3 linked regions of the Homo sapiens genome follow. The protein of the gene in region 3 interacts with the protein of the main gene of each other region in a pairwise test. Each region holds a gene or a part of one and is shown on either strand. Other genes may lie near its edges.

The links. The genes of interacting proteins can lie anywhere in the genome.
Region 1: the proteins of NUDCD3 (region 3) and KLHDC8A interact in binary tests that used the Homo sapiens proteins (3 or more experiments, as listed by UniProt).
Region 2: the proteins of NUDCD3 (region 3) and KLHL23 interact in binary tests that used the Homo sapiens proteins (3 or more experiments, as listed by UniProt).

Annotation. Positions count from the first base shown.
Region 1 is NC_000001.11:205,353,920-205,360,861, forward strand, and holds the start of KLHDC8A (kelch domain-containing protein 8A), read right to left. Parts: upstream 3,004-6,942; 5' UTR 2,614-3,003; intron 1-2,613.
Region 2 is NC_000002.12:169,743,806-169,750,834, forward strand, and holds part of KLHL23 (kelch-like protein 23), read left to right. Parts: intron 1-5,616; coding exon 5,617-5,927; 3' UTR 5,928-7,029. Other genes in the region: PHOSPHO2-KLHL23 (kelch-like protein 23), read left to right, coding at 5,617-5,927.
Region 3 is NC_000007.14:44,403,633-44,410,661, forward strand, and holds part of NUDCD3 (nudC domain-containing protein 3), read right to left. Parts: intron 952-7,029; coding exon 808-951; intron 1-807.

The DNA of each region.
Region 1 (6,942 bases), on a different chromosome or scaffold from region 3:
GCTATTAGAGTTAGGCAGAACAGGATGCTGGATTCAAACTCAGATCTGCCTAACCCCACAGCCCATATCCTCTTCAGGCCACCATGATTCTAAGATGACCACCAGCAGCCCAGCGAGGACCCACTCAAATGGCTGCTGGTTTGGGCTACCCCCATGAACAGGCAGGGCAATTGGGACTTAGGCTTTAGGGATCCAGGCCCCACCTCAGCTCGCTCCACCTCAGAGCCTGGTCCTGAGCATGGGCCACAGACAAGCCAACAATAGTGACAGCTCCACATCAGCGCCATCTCCCTTTTCTTGCCTCTTTCCTCAACCTTTGCTATCTATTTTCATCACCTTTTAGCTTTCTTTGGAAAGATTAAATTTGCATTTAAATAGAAAACCTCTTGAATGACTCTGATGTAACTTTAGGTACTAATTACAAATTCATTCCTCTTTAAATATTAAGGCACTTCAGTTCATCTCAGGGGTGATGGACAGCAGCAATGCTTGGTATTGATGTGTAATGAATATTGAGCTGTTTATTGCAAAGCGCTTACAATCCCTCACCAGCAGAGGGCAGACAGGAGATGTTCTCAAGACCTATATGGGAGATGTCTTGGGAGCCTAAAATCTGCTAAAAATAAATATCTGTAAGCAGTAATCCTTGAGAGAAATTGGAAGATGGCCAGTGGGATGGAAGCTGCTGGGGGTAGGGTGGGAGCACCCAGAAGTCCTCGGGTTGCCAGTTTCCTCAGTTGCTTATAAGTGTCTCAAGGCAGGTGCATTCATCACTCTTTCCCATCACCAAAACTAATGCCTGGCATTCAATGGGGACCCAAGGAATATTTACTGAATGAATGAGGGAATGAATGAATGAATGGATGAATAAGGCAATTAATCATGATGGGAGAGATCATTCATTCAACTACTATAATGAGTCAGGCATTGCACTTGATAATTTACGTAAGTCTCTTTGTTAAATGATTGATTCCTTTGGATATTTCCCAGGGTCATGAAGATGACGCACAAATTCTCCTTTCTCCTGAAGAATTGCACTTGGTATTTTACCTGCTGATTTCATAGGTGACAAAACAAACTCAGAGAGGTGAAGCAATTAGCCTCAGAGCACCCAGTTCAATCTGAAGCTCAGCCAGGACCCAAACGCTGGTCTCAGGCTCTGAGCCTGGCTCTCTATAAAGTGTATCACTCCCCCTCATCCTGGTGCTAGGCTGGTTATTCCAGTGTTCACAGTGTCACACCCTAATCTTGGCCCTTGTCCTCAAGATGCTGGGAGCCCAAAGTCCAGTCCAGCCTCTCAGCCAGGCTTAATGCCTGGGCTCCAGCCAAACCACTCTATTGCCTGATGCCCAATAGGCCTTTCATTTCCTGCCTCCATACTTGGCTTTGTGCTTTCTGCTTCACATGCTCCTTCCTGCTTGTTGACATTCTATTCATCCTTCAGGGCTTGGCCTGAATGCCGCCTCCTCCACGCCTTGCATGATCCCTGCAGGCAAGAGTCATTTTTCCCGTTTCTATAGAACTTCATCTATAACTATGTTAGCATGATAATAACCACCACTCATTATTCTAAACACCACACTACATTCTTTACATATTTTGTATAATTTGAACCTCATAAAAAGTCAATAATAACAATAATAATCATCTTTAACAAGTATATGGTGCTCAATATGCGTCATGAACTGATCAGAGTTTGGTGTGTGTGTGAGTTGTGTGTGTGTATAATTTAGCCTATAAAGTAGGTACTATTATTATTGTCATTGTACAAAGGTGAAAACTTAGACTTAGAGAGGTTAAATGACTTGCCCAAGGTCACACAGCCAGAACAGGGATGTGACATCTAGCTTGCCTGGCCCCGGAATCCCCATACCTGTCTATGTAGATATTCTTTCTTACCAGATGGTAAGCATCGGAAGGCAGGAACCATGTTATGTGCCATTGCTGTCAAAGCACTTTCCCTTCGGAGCCAAGCACAGCAATGTGTATGTACATAGTAGGTAGTCCATAAGTTTTAAAAATCTTAATTTTAGACCCAGGGGCATGTGCGCAGGTTTGTCACAAGGGTGTATTTCGTGTTGCTGTGGTTTGGGTTTCTATTGATCCCGTCACCTGTATAGTGAACACAGTAACCTAATAGGAAGTTTCTCAGCCCTTGTCCCCCTCCCCCCCTCCCTCCTTTTTGAGTTCCCAGTGTCTATTGTTCCCATCTTGATGTCCATCTGCATCCAGGGTTTACCTCCCACGTTTGTAAGTGAGAATATGCAATATTTGGTTTTCTGTTTGATATTCCATAAAGTTGAGCTGAATTCGGATCAGAAGCCAGAAGTTCTGGAGGTTGGCTGTATGTTGGTCAGTCTGTGCCCTGGACAGCAATCTTTGGAGTTAATTAGCTGGGTTAAAACCAGATGGGAAGGAACCTTTAACTTCAAAGCTAGAGAGGCCCAGCTGAGGAGAAAAGGCCCTTGGAGACCCTTGTCCCTCCTGACCCCCATGCCAGCCTGTCTACCTGGGCAGCCCTCCTCTCACAGACACCACTGCCTGTCTCCCCACCAGCAGGCCCTCAGAATGCCAAGGCATCACTCTGCATAGATGGATTGAAATAAAACTTACCTGACTGGAGGGAAAAGGATCGACACCCGGCGATCATCTGCAAAAGACAAAGAAGGGGAGGGGCCGGGAGAGGGTCGAGCGGGTGTTGGCTCTGAGGCTTGTCCTAGGAGCTGGCTGGGAATAGAGTCGGCAAGGTCCCCAGGGTCCCCAGGGCTTCCTCCACAATTGATGAGTCCACTGCTGCTGCCTCTGGCTGATCGACTGGGATGCAGCCAGGCCCCTATGCACAGGGCATGGGGCCAGCCCCGCCCTGAATGCACAGAAACTTGGGGTCCCTGAGTTCCAGGAGGCGTGACCCCCCTACTGAGAGGGCCTCAGCCAGCTCGTCAGAGCCCCAGTGTCTCCGCGCCTCTCCCTCCACCCAGTCTCAGCTGCAAAGGCCCGCTCTGCGAGGAGAGCGGGTGAGGGGGCGGACACGCTCACACACACAGACAATAACTGCCATGGAAACTAACCAACAAAAAGAAGATTTAGGGAGCCGGACTCCTCTGCCAGATGGGAGAGAATGGAGGGAAGAGAGAAAGGGGCTGTCCTTTGCAACGCTGCCAGTTATGCAAAGGGCAAATGTGCACCTCAGCCCTAATCCAACAATTGCAGATTTTTCCCTCCTCAGGGGTGGGGCTGTGGGTAAAAGGCAGAGAAGTGGGTTGACCTTTTTATATGAAGGTCCCAAACAGCCACCCCATACCTTTGCCTTTCTATGCACAGAGGAGGCATCAGTGTGGTCCAGCGTGGGTGCGAGATTCCCAAGGAAATGCTCAGCACCGCTGGCAAAGCGAAACTCGTTCCACAAAGCAACGTGTTTTACCAGGTCAAGCTGAACCTCAGGGGAATTTGATCACTTTACTTGGGCAGAAGGCTTGAAGGACTTTCTTAGATGAAAAGCCCACTGTTTAATGGGTAGCAAAACAAGGCTTTTCTTCAAGACCAACCTTTCTATCCATGATGTTAAATCTGACTGCCCGTAGTTTAAAGAAAGCCGGGGATGGAGTGGGGGCTAGCATCGATATGGCTTTCCTTCCGATGGCCTTTAGTTTTGTTTGGGGAGATTTTTCTCTCTGGGATAAAAGAAAATCTAATGAGGGAACTTAAAAAAAATTCTCTGGAGGTACTGTAAGGGAAATAAGGTAATCTGAGCACCAGAAATCCTGCTCTAACTCTTTAGCTGTGTGACCTTTGGCAAGTTTCTTCGTCTGTAAAATGGGACCAATGGGGTTGTAGAGAGGATTAAATGAGGTAATATGTGTAACGTGCTTAGAACAGTACCTGGCTCATAGTATTTGCCATTGTTATGGCTATTGTTGTTAATCTTTCTGATCCTCCCTTTCCTCAGCTATAAAATGGAGCCAGTGACACCAATCTCTCATGGATTAAGTGTGAGGATGAATCATGTCGTTATAACTGATGGAGTGGTGGTTATAAGGGTGTATACATTTGTCAAAAACCATCAAACTGTGGGTTTTATTGTGTGTAATTTATACCTCAACTTTTTAAAATATAGGTTTATATCACCAGGTAAAGCAGCCATGAGTGTCTAGAACATAGGAAATATTTATTCCCTTCTTCCTCCCTAGCCATCTTTTCAGGAAGAGAGGAAAGAGAAAGTGAATGTTAGAAGAAAGAAGTAAAATAGAGAATTGCTGGGTGCAGTAGCTCATGCCCATAATCCCAGCACTTTGGGAGGCCAAGGTAGGAGGATCATTTGAGACTAGTCTGGGCAACATGGCAAAACCCCACCTCTACAGGAAATACAAAACTTAGCCGGGTATGGTGGTGTTTACCTGTGGTCCCAGGTAGTTGGGAGGCTGAGGTGGGAGGATCATTTGAGCCTGAGGAAGTCGAGGCTGCAGTGAACTGAGATCATGCCACTGCATTCCAGTCTGGGTGACAGAGTAAGACCCTGTCTCAAAAAAAAAAAAAAAAAAAGTGAAAAGGAGCATTGCATAAGAAAGAGGCCATATTGATTTTGTAGGTAATGGGCTATCTGTTGAGACTCAGTTATTCTGGCTATTTCCTGAGTCTTGAATATCAATCTGTCACCTGCAAAGGCAATACCTGGGTAAATGAGTTGCCTTTCTTAACCCTCTCCTAATTTCATATCCTAGTATAAGAAAGTGAACTGCACTGCAGGGTGCTTCCTACTCCTGTTCTGGAAGCCTTTTCATCACTATTACTTCTCCACCACAACTATCCCTTTGTCTCCCAGATGCCCTGCTGGGCTGCACTTTGGTTCCTGAACAAGGTGGCCTGGGGACCATTGGCTGCAAGGTGTCACACCTAATGAAGTGTTGGCCAGGGCAGACTGCTGTCCATCAGAACAGCCCATGATGAACTGAGTTAGATATACCTGGAGGAGACTGCTACAACCTAATTAAAGAGGAATTGTGTGTGTATGTGTGTGTGTGTGTGAAGGGACTGGGAGGATGGAGAATAGTATGTAATTAAGAATCAAGTAAAAGTAATCCCTGGAGATAGACTACAGACCTCAAGCTGACAGCTTGCCTGAACCATAACTGCTTGGGTGATAGTGGAGATTGGAGTCATGCTGCCAAGTGGTCCCAAACCAAAGGGAAGCTTGCTGTTTGTCTCTGTTTGTTCTATGGGGTGAAGTCTATAAATAAATAAATAAGATATTTCACATCCGAGAACAATTTAAACTCAATTTGTAAATATCCATTCTAAGCAAATATGGATGGGCGATGGCTCTTCTATTTTGTTTGGGATTACAAGACTGAAAAAGAGGCAAATGTGGCCAGGCGCGGTGGCTCAAGCCTGTAATCCCAGCACTTTGGGAGGCCGAGGCGGGCAGATCACGAGGTCAGGAGATCGAGACCATCCTGGCTAACACAGTGAAACTCCGTCTCTACTAAAGATACAAAAAAAAAATTAGCTGGGCTTGGTGGCGGGCGCCTGTAGTCCCAGCTGCTTGGGAGGCTGAGGCAGGAGAATGGCGTGAACCCGGGAGGCAGAGCTTGCAGTGAGCCCAGATCGCGCCACTGCACTCCAGCCTGGGCAACAGAGTGAGACTCTGTCTCAAAAAAAAAAAAAAAAAAAAGAAAGAAAGAAAGAAAGAAAAAGAGGCAAATGCAAAGATGGTGATGAAGAGGCTTCAAAGATGAAATCCTTTCAGGATCATGGCTCTCATCCCTCCAGAAATGTTTATATCTAGGGACAGGGAAGAAAGGAGGATGAGTTCAGATTGTGATAACTAAGATAATCACTAAGATGATTGTAGCCCTACATTACAATTCTCAATGTCAAACCCTGGAGATGAAGAGGTCTAACATTTAGCCCAGAACCTTTCCAGTGATGAAAACAAACAACGACTCTTTTGGCATTGGTCTGATATTCAGTGACAGAATAAAGTTTGTTCCAGCCGAAATTAGCAGGCTAGGGTCCAGGTTAAAATGCAAACAAAGAAAGCAGCCCAGAGGCAGCTGGGATTCTGGGACACAGATAAGTCACAAAGCTGGGTTTATCTGCAGGGTTCAGGATTGATCAGCTCAGCGTATATTTCCAAGGCTCTTCTCTACTCAGCCACCCCTCCCAGCTCAAAAAACAAGAGGCCCACACCAAAATATAAAAAGGTGCTGGATCTAAAATCCTGCCTAATTTAAGCTCTGCTCACAAAGGAGGCCAGAGAGCAGAGGGAGGGGTGGAAATCAAATAAGTAAATGTCAGCCCTGCAGTTGGGTAGAAGCCATTAGCCAGGCAGAGCATCCAATTAGAAGCCATTGAATTAGAGCAGTGAAAGAAGGGCCTCACGTCAGAGGGCACTGCGGGGAGGGCCGGCACAAGTGGGCAGGAAGGAACGCGGGGTGGCGATCAATGGAGGATTACCGGAAGATGTGCAAATGGCAGGAACAGATGCCTTCCAAATGACAGGGCACCCGGTCCAGATACTCTACATAAAATGCCCACATGGTTCCTTTGTCCTCCCCCAAATCCTGTCTGAGGGAGTCCAGCCATCTCATGGGCTATTTTGGAAAACACTGCTCCCTTTTGCCTCAACCCAGAGATAAAATGGGCAGCTCTCAGCCACTCTCGGATTAATCTGAACAGACAAAGAAGGGGAGCAAATCCCTTGGCAAATGGTGCCTGGGAGATTTCATTTTTCCGCTTTGCAGTACAAACCTACTCAAACAGATACTAAAATACAAAGCGAAGTTTGTTCACATGGAGATGTTTTTATTTAAAACTATAATATTATTTTATTTTGTAATCAGTAATTGTCAATGCTCAATCTTTTTTTTTTTAACAAATTCTTATTTCCTTGTTCAGAGAAGAAAAAGATTCACATTTCCTTCCTTTCTCCTAAATTAGAAGATT
Region 2 (7,029 bases), on a different chromosome or scaffold from region 3:
CAGCTAGTCTGTTAAATCCTTAAGCTCTTGAAGGCTGTGCATCTGCATCCACTGAATTATAGCAAGGTTTGTTTCTTAAGGATTTTAGCAGTACCTCCTGAGGAATTAAAATGTCATCCTTGAGTTGACTTCATAGAGATACATTGCTTACACTGAGAAGAAATGACTACTATTATTTTTTAAAGATAATATAAGTATTATATTTTATCTTAACCCCTTTAATGGGGTAGTTTGTGTAATTGGAAAACATGGGACTATAGTTGCATTGAATTCAAGGTGACATTTATTGAGACCCTACATTGGAAAAGGTAGGATTCTGATAATTATGTAAGATGATTAAGTGTTAGTCTTTACTGCCGTAGGAGCTCAGAATCCAGGAGCAAATATACATACATAATGGAAATACAGGACAGTCTCTGCTAAGTTCTGTAAAAACAAGTGCTATTGAAATTGAGAATAAAAAGAGTGTAAGTCTAATTAAGGGAAATCTGACTATCTTAGAATGCTTCCAACGGTAGGTGGTTATGAGCTGGGCCTTAAAGAATGGCCCCAAATAAGGAAGGTAGTTTTTGAGGAAGGGTTTTTCTGGCAAGAAGTCAGCCCAGTGGAGGAAGGTGGAAAGGAAAGTTTCAGGTGTATTCCATTACCTGGGAGCAGACATGAATGAATGGAATGTAAGAGGGTAGAATGGGAGATCGGATGGGAGAGTTCAGTTGGAGAGCATGTCATGGAGAGCTTTGAATGGCAGTCTGGGTAATTTTTTTTTTTTTTGAGATGGAGTCTTGCTGTGTTGCCCAGGCTGGAGTGCAGTGGTGTGATCTCGGCTAACCGCAACATCCGCATCCCAGGTTCAAGGTATTCTCCTGCCTCAACGTCCCAAGTAGCTGAGATTACAGGCGCTGCTACTTTGCCCGGCTAATTTTTCATATTTTTAGTAGAGATGGGGTTTCACCGTGTTAGCCAGGCTGGTCTCAAACTCCTGACCTTGTGATTCACCTTCCTCAGCCTCCCAAAGTGCTGGGATTACAGGCTTGAGCCACCACAACCAGCTCAGTCTGGGTAATTTTTAAAATGCAGAATCATAAAGGTTTTCGAGCAAGAGAATGATGTGTGATCAGCTCTAGGTTTTTGTTTTTTGTTTTTTTTTTTTTAAAGACAGTCTCGCTCTGTTGCTTAGGCTGGAGTGCAGTGGCACAATCTTGGGTTCAGCGATTCTTGTGTCTCAGCCTCCCAGGTAGCTGGGATTACAGGCATGCACCACCACGCCTGGCTAATTTTTGTATTTTTTTTTAGTAGAGACGGGGTTTCACTATGTTGGCCAGGCTGGTCTTGAACTCCTGGCCTAAAGTCATCCACCCGCCTCAGCCTCCCAAAGCACTGGGCCACTGCACCTGGCCCAGCTCTGGTTTTAAGAAGAGAACTCTTGGCTGGGCGCGGTGGCTCACGCCTGTAATCCCTGCACTTTGGGAGGCCAAGGTGGGCGGATCATGAGGTCAGGAGATCGAGACCATCCTGGCTAACATGGTGAAACCCCATCTCTACTAAAAATACAAAAAAATTAGCTGGGCATGGTGGCGGGCACCTGTAGTCCTAGCTACTCGGGAGGCTGAGCCAGGAGAATGGTGTGAACCCGGGAGGCAGAGCTTGCAGTGAGCTGAAGATCGTGCCCCTGCACTCCAGCCTGGGTGACAGAGTGAGACTCCGTCTCAAAAAAAAAAAAAAAAAAAAAAAAAAGGAAGAGAACTCCTTTTAGGTAGATTGGGAGAAAGACAGCAAGGGGATCTACTAACACTATTGTGTTTAACCAAGGGAGAAATGCTGAAAGCCTGAAGAAGTGGTAGGAGTAGAAAAGAGGGGCCGATGTGAGGAATGTCATAGATTCAACAGCTGATTGCTTCCTTGGCTGACAGCATACAGGAGATGAAGGAGAGAAAGGAGTTGACAGTCGTCTCAGGGTCTCTGGCCGGTTGTCTGAGAGAATGAGGTATACTGAAGGAGAAGCTGACAGGAAGGGAGAAGAGGGGAGATGATGAGCTCGATTTTATAGTTTAGAGCAAAGGAATCATTGGATAACCCAAAAGAGCTGTCCAGCAGGCAAAGGGAAATGTGGGTTTGCAGCTGAGAAGGAGGGAGGTAGCTGAATGTAGAGATCTGGGGATTGTTTGCTTGGATGGTGGCTCTGGGTATGGGGATGAATAAGATGCCTTGGTAGGGTGGGACCAGCAATACAGCTATGGGCAGAATCCTAGGAAACGGGCAGAGTTGAGGGATAAGCTGAGGAACAAGAGGGTGTGAAGAGCCGAGAGGAAGCAGTATGTGATAAAGGAGGACCTGTGGAGAGTTGTGTGAAGTGGGGAGAGAACTTTCCTGGCCCTGCCATTTATTTACCTGCCTTGCCATCGGCAAGTAGACTAAGCTCTTGGGCCTTACCTTCCAGTGAAATCAGAAAGTTAGACTACATAAACTTTACAGGCTCTTCAATGAGAAAAGATCTTAGGAAAAAAAATTGAAATCAATTCAAATGGATATTGTGGTTTTCTCTGAATCCCTCTAGCTGTTTGTTCATATCACTCATCTAACACTGAATACAGACTGCTGTGTGTTGATGTTTTATACTTCTGTGTAAACTTTTGAGCCGTGACAGATGGTGTCACTCCCATTCTTGATTATTCATTTGTTCACTCATTCATGTCTAACATATCTGCTGTGTGCATCCTACATGCTGCTATATACTCAGTGCTAGGAGCACAGTGAGCAAGGCACAGTCCCAGAGCCTCAGTGGCTTAGAGGGGTTAACTAACAAGAAAAAACGCAATTACAGCTCAGGAAGAAAAAGTTCCTATCCACAACAATAGAACATGTGTTGTATTTGAGTAAAAGAGAAAAAATGATTAGGAATCACTTTACTTAAATATTTTTACTGCTATAGGAAGACAGATGGCTTTCTTAACATATGAATCAAAAATTGGGGTGTTTTGATAAACTTCAAGTAATTTAAGAAAAGCCTAGTGAGTGATGTTGAATCACTTTTACCAACTGATAAAATATTTGAACTATCATTTTCACAATAACCATTAGTTGAATGATTCATATAATTGATATAAGCAGTGTTTCACAAGTACTTGAAACAAGTAAATCCTATAAAAATTCAACATATAAATAACTGGAAAGTAAAAAATGAGTTTTTAACAAGTAGGATAATTATTTTCTTGGATGTCAGTAACGAGAAAAATATGTGGAAATGAAGCAAAAATGCAATCTTCTAAGACTTTCCTTAGCTGTCAAAACCTAGGGAGGGCCAGGCACGGTGGCTCACGCCTGTAATCTCAGTGCATTATTTGAGTCCAGGAGTTCAAGACTAGCACCTGGGCAACATGGCAAAACCCCATCTCTATTAAAAATACAAAAATTAGCCAGGCATGGTGGTGCGCACCCGTAATCTCAGCTACAGTGCACACCTGTAATCTTGGCTACTTGGGTGGCTGAAGCATAAGAATCACTTGAACCCGGGAAGCAGAGGTTGCAGTGAGCCGAGATTGCGCCACTGCACTCCAGCCTGGGAGACAGAGCGAGACTCTGTCTCTAAAAAAAAAAAAAAAAAAACTGAGGGAGAACTTTACTGGTAAGAAGTTGTCTTCCACTCCTAAAGAGGAAATCACTTTTTTTTTTTTTTTTTTTAAGAGACAGGGTCTCACCGTGTTGCCCAGACTAGCCTTGAAGTCCTGGGCTCAAGCAATCCTCCAGCCTCAGCCTCCCCAGTAGCTAGGATTACAGGTGTGCACCACCACATTCATCTGGAAATCGCATTTCTGATTGTATTATTCTTTCTAAAGAGGGGCTTGCTTATAAGCTTTCCTTCTACGTTATAATGTGAGGACACATTGGGACACAAGCGTACAAAGTACAATTCATTCATTATTCAACACATATTTATCGAATTCTCACAAGGTGCCAGACAGTTGCCATTCTCCAATTAGGAATAGGTTAGTGAGCAGGACACAGTTCCTGTGCTGCCAGGAGGGAGAGAGAGACGATAAGAAACACACCTGGCTCACACCTGTAAGCCCTGCACTTTGAGAGGCTGAGGCAGAGGAGGATCTCTTGAGGCCAGGAGTTGTAGACCAGCCTGGGCAACAAAGGGAGACCCCATCTCTACAAAAATACAAAAATTAGCCAGTTGTGATGATGTGTACCTATAGTCCCAGCTTCTTGAGAGGCTGAGATGGGAGGATTACTTGAGCCCAGGAATTTGAGGCTATATTGAGCTATGATTGTGCCATTGCACTCCAACCTGGGTGACAGAGCAAGACCCTGTCTCTAGGAAAGAAAAGAAAAGAAACATTCCAGATAATGAGAAGTGCTATGGAGAGAATTAAAATAGGATGATGTGGTAGAGACGCCTGCCTGGCCACTTCAGGCTGGGTGGTCAGGGAATGCCCTTTGAAGAGGTGAGAGTAAGACAAGACCGGAATGACAGGAAGGACGCAGCTGTGCAGAGACCTGGGGAGAGGAGAGACTTCAAGGCAGAAGGAACAGCTCAGCGATAGTGCGCTAAATCTTTCCTTGCTTTAATTTGAATGCACTGACAAATCCTCCTCTTCCTTTGGGGCTCCAGCGAAAGGTTTTTAAGTGTAATTTTATGACTGATATTCCCAGAGAGTGAACTGACAGGCTAGGAGTGACGATAAAAGCGGGTGTGTGGAAGAAAACAGGGCAGAGACCAGGATGAGGCAAATGAGATGCTTCAGGCACAAAATGTAAGGCCATGCAGTGCAAATGACTCACAGAGTTCTGCCTCCCTGCATTTTGCACCCTAAGCACTTCGCTAGCCTCACTCTTGTCACAGCCCTGGGAAGAAGGGAGAAGTAGAGTTGTGAGATATGCTGGTGCTTTGAAGATCCAGCAGGTTTGGGTGTAGAGGGGGAGATAAAATGGAAAACATTAAAACAGCCTAGGAGGAGGACCGCCCCCCCCCCCCCCCATATACATACTTCCAGCCCCAGGACCCGGATCCCACACAGCAGCCCTCCGCCTGGGGGCACCCTTCACAGCTTCTCAGGATGATAGACTGTCATGCCCCACGAGTCTGGGTACGTTTCTTTAGCTTCTTGAGTTCATAACTGGACTGGCAGTGTGAGAAGCACACAAGGCCACCCTGTGTGGCACCTGTGACAGCAGGCATGCCAGATTGCCTGCCATTGGTTAAGGAGACAGCTGCCAAGACCTGAAGGGACACCACTGCTTATCGAGGGTATCTTTCTATAAGGATTCTACTGCTACCATCTTTTACAGATAGGTGTCAAGTAAAAGTTGTCTGTGTTGGGAAATTCCCAGAAAGGTGATCTGTTGGGTGAGTTCCTCCCTGGCCTCCTACAGAGCCAGCTAAGGACAAGCTGAAGGATAATGGCAGCATGGCAGGAACAGGCGATCTGAATTAGGTGACAGGGAATGATTTTCAGCCTCAGCGTTGCAGTATTGTGTGCCTGAATCAAAATACCACCACTCCCTATTTTTTGTGTGCTAAATTTTAAAGGATTATTACATTACCACACTGTGGAATCTCTTTTGTTTGTTATCCTTTAAAAAAATGCTGTTTTCTTTTTTTCTTTTTAAAAGAATATGGATTGTGCTCAGTTCCGTTTGAAAATAAGCTCTATCTAGTCGGCGGACAAACTACAATCACAGAATGCTATGACCCTGAACAAAATGAATGGAGAGAGATAGCTCCCATGATGGAAAGGAGGATGGAGTGCGGTGCCGTCATCATGAATGGATGTATTTATGTCACTGGAGGATACTCCTACTCAAAGGGAACGTATCTTCAGAGCATTGAGAAATATGATCCAGATCTTAATAAGTGGGAAATAGTGGGTAATCTTCCCAGTGCCATGCGGTCTCATGGGTGTGTTTGTGTGTATAATGTCTAATTGAATCTGCAGAAATGACCAAGCAATCACTTTTTTGGAGTATAGTTTTATAAAAAAAGAATGCAGGGTTTGAAGTTCCTTACCTGATAATTGTGTCTGGCACATGATAGGGGATCAGTAAATTGTAATTCCTAACCCTACTGTACTCCCAAACATGGTGATTCATGGTCAAGAAAAATCTTATATATATATATATATACACACACACATATATGTGTTCATATATATGTATACATATATATGTGTATATATACGTATGTATACATATATGTGTATATATACGTATGTATGTATACATATGTGTATATATAGTATGTATGTATACATGTATGTGTATATATACGTATGTATGTATACATATATGTGTATACATATATATGTGTGTATATATATACACATATATACGTATATATGTGTATATATATACACAGTTGAATCAGTGGGATTAATACCTATAATCTCTGGTTTTCAAAGGTAATATAGAATATTTGACACTTGGTAAAAGGTGAACTACCTTTGTAGTGAATCTTTTCCTCTTGGTAGCATCAACACTGGGGATAAATCAGAACCATTCTGTGGAATGAAATGTTTCTCAAGAGCCTATAATATAGTAGATAGTGCATATTAAGATGTCTGGCTGGGCATGGTGGCTCATGCCTGTAATCCCAGCACTTTGGGAGGCTGAGGCGGGAGGATCACTTGAGCCTAGAAGTTGGAGACTAACCTGGCGAGACCCTGTCTCAAAAAAAAAAAAAAATCAATTTAGCTAGCAGGAATTTGACATTTAAAGAGGGAATCTTCTCTACCTCTACAAAATCAACCCTTAACACTTTTTTCACCTTCAGAATTATTTAGAATGTGGATTTACTTTGTCTAGTTTTTTCCTTTATAGTGTAATTTATTGTTACTCTCTATTTACTGACTACCAGAGATATACAAAATACTGTGCAAAAGATTGTTACTGTTCAAAGAGCTTACAAACTAAATTTAAAAGAATAGCAAGTCTGAAAAATAGAAGATAGTCAAATATTTGTTTATGCTAAGAACTGTTTTTAATTTTCAGCTTTGATGTAAATTGCTAGCTTAGTTGTCTTTAGTTCAA
Region 3 (7,029 bases):
GGGAAGCCCAGGCAGAAGCCTGCCAAGCATGTCTTATAGAAACCAAAACAGATACCTTTATTGCATACTTTGCACATATGAAGAATATATCTGTATAAAATTCTAAAGACTTTTGTCCAGACATTATATTTTTCTTTTCACCTTTATTCCTTTTACCATGCCCTGTAAACACCCCAGTAGGAGAAAAAAAGGAAACAAGTTAGTTCAGAACATGTTGTGCCTCAATTTATCTGTAGGTGACCTCCACTTGGGCACCAGCACAGAGCCACCACTGACAAGGTTCAAAGCTTTCACAGGGGAGAAGGAGCTGAGCCACCAACAGATCTGGCCCAGGCGTGCAGCCCAATTTGTGAGCGAGTCTGCTAACTGGTAACATGTGAGCTGTTCATTTGGAGTCACACCTTAATCTCACTGTCCTGAACTCTTAGCTATGCCTAACCAGCAGCTGGCTAAGGACAGCCAGTTGGTCAATGAGCCTGATTCTCTGAATTTATTAACTCTGTACCCTCCAGAGTAGCATCTGTAAAAATTCAACCTAGCTTTTCATTTTCAATTTACTTGTTTTTGCCTTAGATGTAAGAACAGTGGAGCTCTTGGGAATGACCAAGACCTCAAAGGGCCAAAGCTCAAGTGCCCACAGAGACGATCTCTGAGCAGTATGGAAAATGCTCAGGAAAACCCATCTGCCCCAGCAGCTGAAATTAACAACCTCACTGCTTAAGTGTAAATAGGCTTGTTGGTCAAAAGGGGCATCACTGCAGGTTTGAAGTCCACCTGGGAGCCCTACACACAGGTGCCCAAACTTACCAAAACGCACTTCCCGGGCTCGAGACTCCAGAGAGAACTCTCAGTGTTGATCTTGTGGGTGAGCTTCCCTTCCATGAGGACGCGCTCCCCATTTTCCTCCAGCATGGCCACACGAATGGAGCTGCTGCTAAGGGCCACTGAGACCTGGGGACACAGCAGAAGAAAATCATCTCTCCTATCAGGGTGACCACTGGTGTGCTGTACGGTGGGAGTGGTGATGGTTTCCAAGGTACCTGACTGCACACTACAGCGCTGTCATCAGGCTCACCAGGCATCTCAGTGAAGAAAACCATACCAGCCTAATTTATACCTAGAGCAACCTGAAGATGTCAGCTCATTTAGTAAATCCACCAGAAAATCTTTCTCAGCATAACTGGTAACGTAAAATGCTGTGGTGGAAGCTGCTGTGACCCAATCTTCTTCTCCCTTCTCCAGTTAACGGAGACCAATTGTCACAGCAAAAAGTGAGCAGAGGAGACAAGTGGTATTTCTTCCTTGCCTCCCCTTGTGGCTACCTGGGAGACGCAGGAGCCCAGCCCTGGACCACAGCAACCAAGAAAGCTGAGGGGGCTGCACACCCTGAATTGCTCACCCCAGGACTGCTGTACAAGAGACAAGCACCACCTCTTCCTTCCATGAGCCACTGCACTGCCTGGTTGACTATAGCCTGGTCTTCATCCAAGAGTATGAGACCAACTCCTTTGGTTTTGGAAGGCAGCTATGCTCACCAATATACCACCAACACTCGCACATGGTTTTGCATTTTGTCTTGGTTCTTTACAAAACCAAGCCTCTAAAAGCCTCAGCTCACCCTCCTCCCTCTGAGCCTGTCCTAGGCAGAGACTGGCCCCATGGCCTTCCCCACCGCCCTAGGAACACCTATCCCTGCCCCACCACTTGTCCGTCTCCAGAACTGGACTGGCAGCTGTGGGAGTAGGGTTCCTTTTACTTCATATCATGTATTCCAGCCAGCAGTCTCCAAAGCAGGGTATGCATACCCCAGGAGGTTCACAGGTCAGTAATTAGAAGAGGAAATAAAACAGAACTTCCATTTACATTTTGTATCTGTATAATGTATGCATTAAGAAGACACTGGGATCAAGTACTTAAAACTTTTTTCTAATAGGTATGTGGAATAAAAATAATTTGGAAGCTACTCTCCATGTCATTTGGTAGATGGCTCATTAAACGCTTATAAAATGATTGGAAAAAAAGACAACCCAAACTGATAGATTTTCCAAACTGGAGTTTAGTATTTCCAATGAAATACAATACCATAACCTAACTGTAGTTTAAATATTCGTAAATAAAAAATGGAAATGGGAGAAATGATGTGCAGGAGTCACCGCTGTCAGTTTTTCTTCTTTTTCTTTAAGAGACACGGCCTCACTGCATTGCCCAGGCTGGAGTGCAGTGGCGTGATCCCAGCTCACTGCTGCATCAAACTCCTGGGCTGAAGCAATCCCTCCACCTCAGCCTCCCGAGTAACTGGGACTACAGGTACGTGCCACCATGCCTGGCTAATTTTATTTTTATTTTTTGTAGAGACAGGGGTCTTGCTGTTGCCCAGGCTGGTCTCGAACTCTTGGCCCCAAGTGATCCTACTGCCTCAGCCTCCCAAAGTGCTGGGATGACACATGTGAGCCACCACATCCAGCCCATCAGATAGTTACTAAATGAAAGATAGTTCCTGAGCCATGCAGTGAGGGGAGAAGGTGGCAGAAGGCTGCCCACTGGGGGACACAGCGAAGATATTCTGCTAACCACAGGCGGCTCTGCCAGGTTCACATGCAGACTCCAAGGAAGCATCCTCTCATGAGATCGCAGTTCCACTTGCATGACCTTTCATAGGGGAATTTACCACGGAAAAGGGTATTTACTTGGCTAGTCCTATTGAACAATAGGCAACTGAGCTTCACTCCCTACCTTCTAACACCATGAGGAACGTGAGCAAATGGAACAACAGATCCACTCACTCCTGAAATGATCCAGACACATGTTGGGCCAAATCATGTCTAACCATGAACTTGTGTGCAATGGAAACACGACACAGAGGGCCCAAGGCTCCTCAGCCTGCCTTCACAAGAACAAGCTCACTTAACAAATATAATTCTCCCACCCAGCTCTATATAACATAATAATTTCCAAATTTGGGGAAGCTTCTCACACTGCCTACCCAGGGGAATGAACCAAATCATCAAGGGAGAAAACCAGACAAGAAATGCTTCCAGAGGTCCCAGGTGAAGATGTCACACTGGGAACAGACAGCCATCTCTCTGACCTCTTGTGAACTGCAGGCATAATAGGCATGAAGAGAAAAACCCCAGACAGTGAAAATGGGGGAAGAGGGAGGCCAGGAACAGATGAGATGTCAACAAATCTGCAGAAGACAAAAGGAGGAGGGGCACAGGAGACAAATCCTATAGGGTAGGAGACATCCAGAAGCCACAGCTACATAGGCTCCAGTTGGGAGTCGGCAGGTATGCAGAGCAGGAGCAAGGCCAGGGGCACATGTGGGAACTGCTGTGGCCCTGGACGCCCCACTGAAAGGGACAGGAATCCCTCTGTTTGCTACAGAAGAATGGAGGACCTTGCTCCAAAGACACTGACCAGCAGTCTGAGGACCTAGTGTGGATGCCTGTGTGTCAAGTGAAGTCCTACTCACTCAAGCATTAGGATGCCAAGACCCTATGTCCTATAAAGCAAAGCTGACTGGTCAATCCACTCAGCTGTCGGTGGTGGTGGGACGAGCAGGTTTCAGACACACAGTAGACAAACCCATCAATACGGTCCCACACTCAAGAGAATGGGAGAAAAATATTTTTGTATTAAAAAAAAAAAAAAGACCGGGCATGGTGGCTCACACCTGTAATCTCAGCACTTTAGGAGGCCGAGGCAGGCAGATCACCTAAGGTTGACAGTTCGAGACCAGCCTGACCAACATGGAGAAACCCCGTCTCTACCAAAAATACAAAATTAGCCAGGCGTGGTGTTGTATGCCTGTAACCCCAGCTACTCCGGAGGCTGAGGCAGGAGAATCGCTTGAACCTGGGAGGCAGAGGTTGCGGTGAGCCGAGACTGCACCATTGCAACAGGAGCCTGAGCAACAGGAGTGAAATTCTGTCTCAAAAAAAAAAAAAAAAAAAACTAGAGAACTGAAGACTGCATCTTGTGAGAAAAAACAGGCAGATGAAAACAAGTTAAAAAAAAATACAGAGCTAATTTGGAAAAAAGATATCCAAAAATATTTCTATTTTATGTCTTCACAGAGATCTGAGAAGACACTATATCCATATAACCAGAATAAAATATGAAAATAGAACAATTAGGCCAAAAAGAAAGAACACAAGAATTTAAAATACAGTAGCTAAAATTAAACTTCAATAAAGAGGCTGGAAGATAAAGTCAAAGAAATCAAGGTAGAAACACAGATCAATTCAGGCAATCAATTTGGCATTCCAGAAATTATGACAGTAATAAGATAATTTTCCAGAGCCAAAGGAAAATATGCCTCCAGATTGAAAAGTCCCACCAAGAGCTAAGCAGAATGAATGAAAGACTCATGAAATTTTATGACACTGGGTGTTTTTAAAAAGGTCCTGAAAGTTCCAAGGAGGAGAAAAAGCTTACTCACAAAGAGATGGAATAGACTTCCAGAATCAATTACACAGAGTGTAAGAAGATATCCCTTTCAATCCTAACAAGGGAAAATTATTTTTAAGCTAGAATTCTACATACACCCAAACTGAGAAATAAGTGAAAAGTTAAAATAAATGCATTTTAAGATATACAACAATTCTACATTATATATCACTTTGAGAAAAACAAAATGAGGATGAAAACTGAAAAAGAGGAATATCCAACTCAAGTCCAAAAACTGCATTTAATCTATAAACGCAGGAAGAAAATACCAGGAGTGTAGCTATACAGCAGAACAGGAAATAACCAGTCTAGAGTGGAGTTCAGGCAGAAAGAGATTTCTAGACAATACTCAGTATTAATGAATCTGGGTAATTCTGAGGTTATGATGAAGTATACTATTTTTGATAACAAGATAAAAAAGAAGGGCAGCAAGAACCCTCAGGAAAACAAAAAAGATTTAAGAGATTCCTGATCCAAAGGATGTCAGTGAAAATGGTGGTTACTACAGGCCTCCAAAAAGCTCTCCTCCATAAAAGCAACCAAAAAGTTGGCAAAAATTGTCAGTATCAACTTCTTATGGATTTTGGAAACTAACCAAAGGTTTGCAGGAACCCAGGGAGCATTAATTCAAGGAAAACAACCACATCTCAGTAAGAACAGTGAGCTCTGTGATATTTTAATTTGGCCTAGACCCATCCCCACTCTCCAGGCTCTCAGCAGGCCGCATTCCTGGTACAGCGTAGCAGCCATCGCTGGAGAAAACAGTGCTCTTAGAGCTCTTTCAAAGCTTCATTCTCAAAGAACTGTCATCATTTGACCTGTCTGATGGTTCCCTGTAAGACCTCATTTGCAAGACTGACTGACTGTTTCTGGCTAAACTCAGAAAAGCCTTCCTCCCAACCCAGGAGTGTCTGTTGAAAATACGGCAAGTGTTTTAACTTTGCAGCCTCCTGAGGTGGCAGATAACAACTGAGGCAAACCAAAGGCAAAGGTGGGAAATAAAATGTCCGTGGGGGCTTTGAAAAGCTTTGACATTTTCCCAGGAATCTAGAAAGACACATGAATGTACAGAGCTTCACTGCACACTCAGGAAAAACCTAAGAAGGCCTTAAGCTCTCACCTCTGGCTGACTTTGACTCAACATCAGCAGGAAATAAAGGCTAAGGCAGTTTTTAACTGTTAGGCCAAGCAATGAAGGTATGCTCCAACAGGTAGATGAAGCCCCTCGACAAAAACAGGTGTTTACTGATCCCAGGAGTTTAAGGAAATCGCCATCTAATAATTACTTGGCCACTAAGTTCACCAAGTACAGATTTCACTGGTCAGACACAATAAAGAATACAAACTTTACAGAATTAGTTCAGAAAAGTCATTAAACAAGAACAACTATATCACGTACCAATAGCAACCATGGGAAGAAAGGAGCATCTGATTTCCTGAGTCACCCCATTGTGTTATTTAAAAATCCATTTCTCAATAACAGCAAAAAAAAAAAAATTAGACAAAGAAACAACAAAGTATGGCCCATACATAGGAAAAAGAAAGCAATCAATAAAATCTGTCCCTGAGGAAGCCCACATATGAAGAACTTAGCAGAAAACAGTCTCTAAATCACCTATTTTAAATATGCTCAAAGAGCTAAGAAAACTATGCAAAAATTACTAAAGGAAAGTATGGGAATAACGTCTTTTAAGTAGAGAATATCAATAAATATCAGTATCACTATTGATACTGATAACGAGATAGAAATTATTATTACCATTTTTTTAAGAATCAAATACAAATTCTGGAGTTCAAAAGTAAAAGGGGGAAAAGATAAGCGTTCATGAAAGGGGCTCAAAACCACTTTTTAGCATTTAGAAGAAAGAACAAGCAAACTTGAAGACAGGTCAATTGAGATTACCCAAACTGCGAAACAGGAGGAAAAAACAGTGAAGAAAAATAAACAGAGTCACAGAACCTGAGGGACACTATTAAGCATACCAACATACAGAAGAGAAAAGAAGAAAGAATATTTGAAAGAATAATGGCTAAAAACTTTCCAAATTTGACATGAAAAAAATTACACCCAAGAAGCTCAATGAATTCCAAGTAAAATAAACTAAAAGGGAGCCAGCCTCACCTAGATGTCATAATCAAACTGTCAAAAAAGCCAAGTCAATAATGAAGGAACAGAACAAAAACAAGGAATAAAATCTTCAGAACTTACTATAAAGCTACAGTAATCAAAACAGTGTGGTACTGGCATAAGGACAGGCATCTATACAGATCAATGGAACAGAATTAAAAGTCTAAAAACAGCCAGGCACAGTGGCTCACGCCTGTAATCCCAGCACTTTGGGAGGCCGAGGTGGGTGGATCACGAGGTCAGAAGATCAAGACCATCCTGGCTAACATGGTGAAACCCCGTCTCTACTAAAAATACAAAAAAAATTATCCGGGTGTGGTGGCGGGTGCCTGTAGTCCCAGCTACTTGGGAGGCTGAGGCAGGAGAATGGTGTGAACCCAGGAGGTGGAGCTTGCAGTGAGTGGAGATCCTGCCACTGCACTCCAGCCTGGGGGACAGAGCAAGACTCTGTC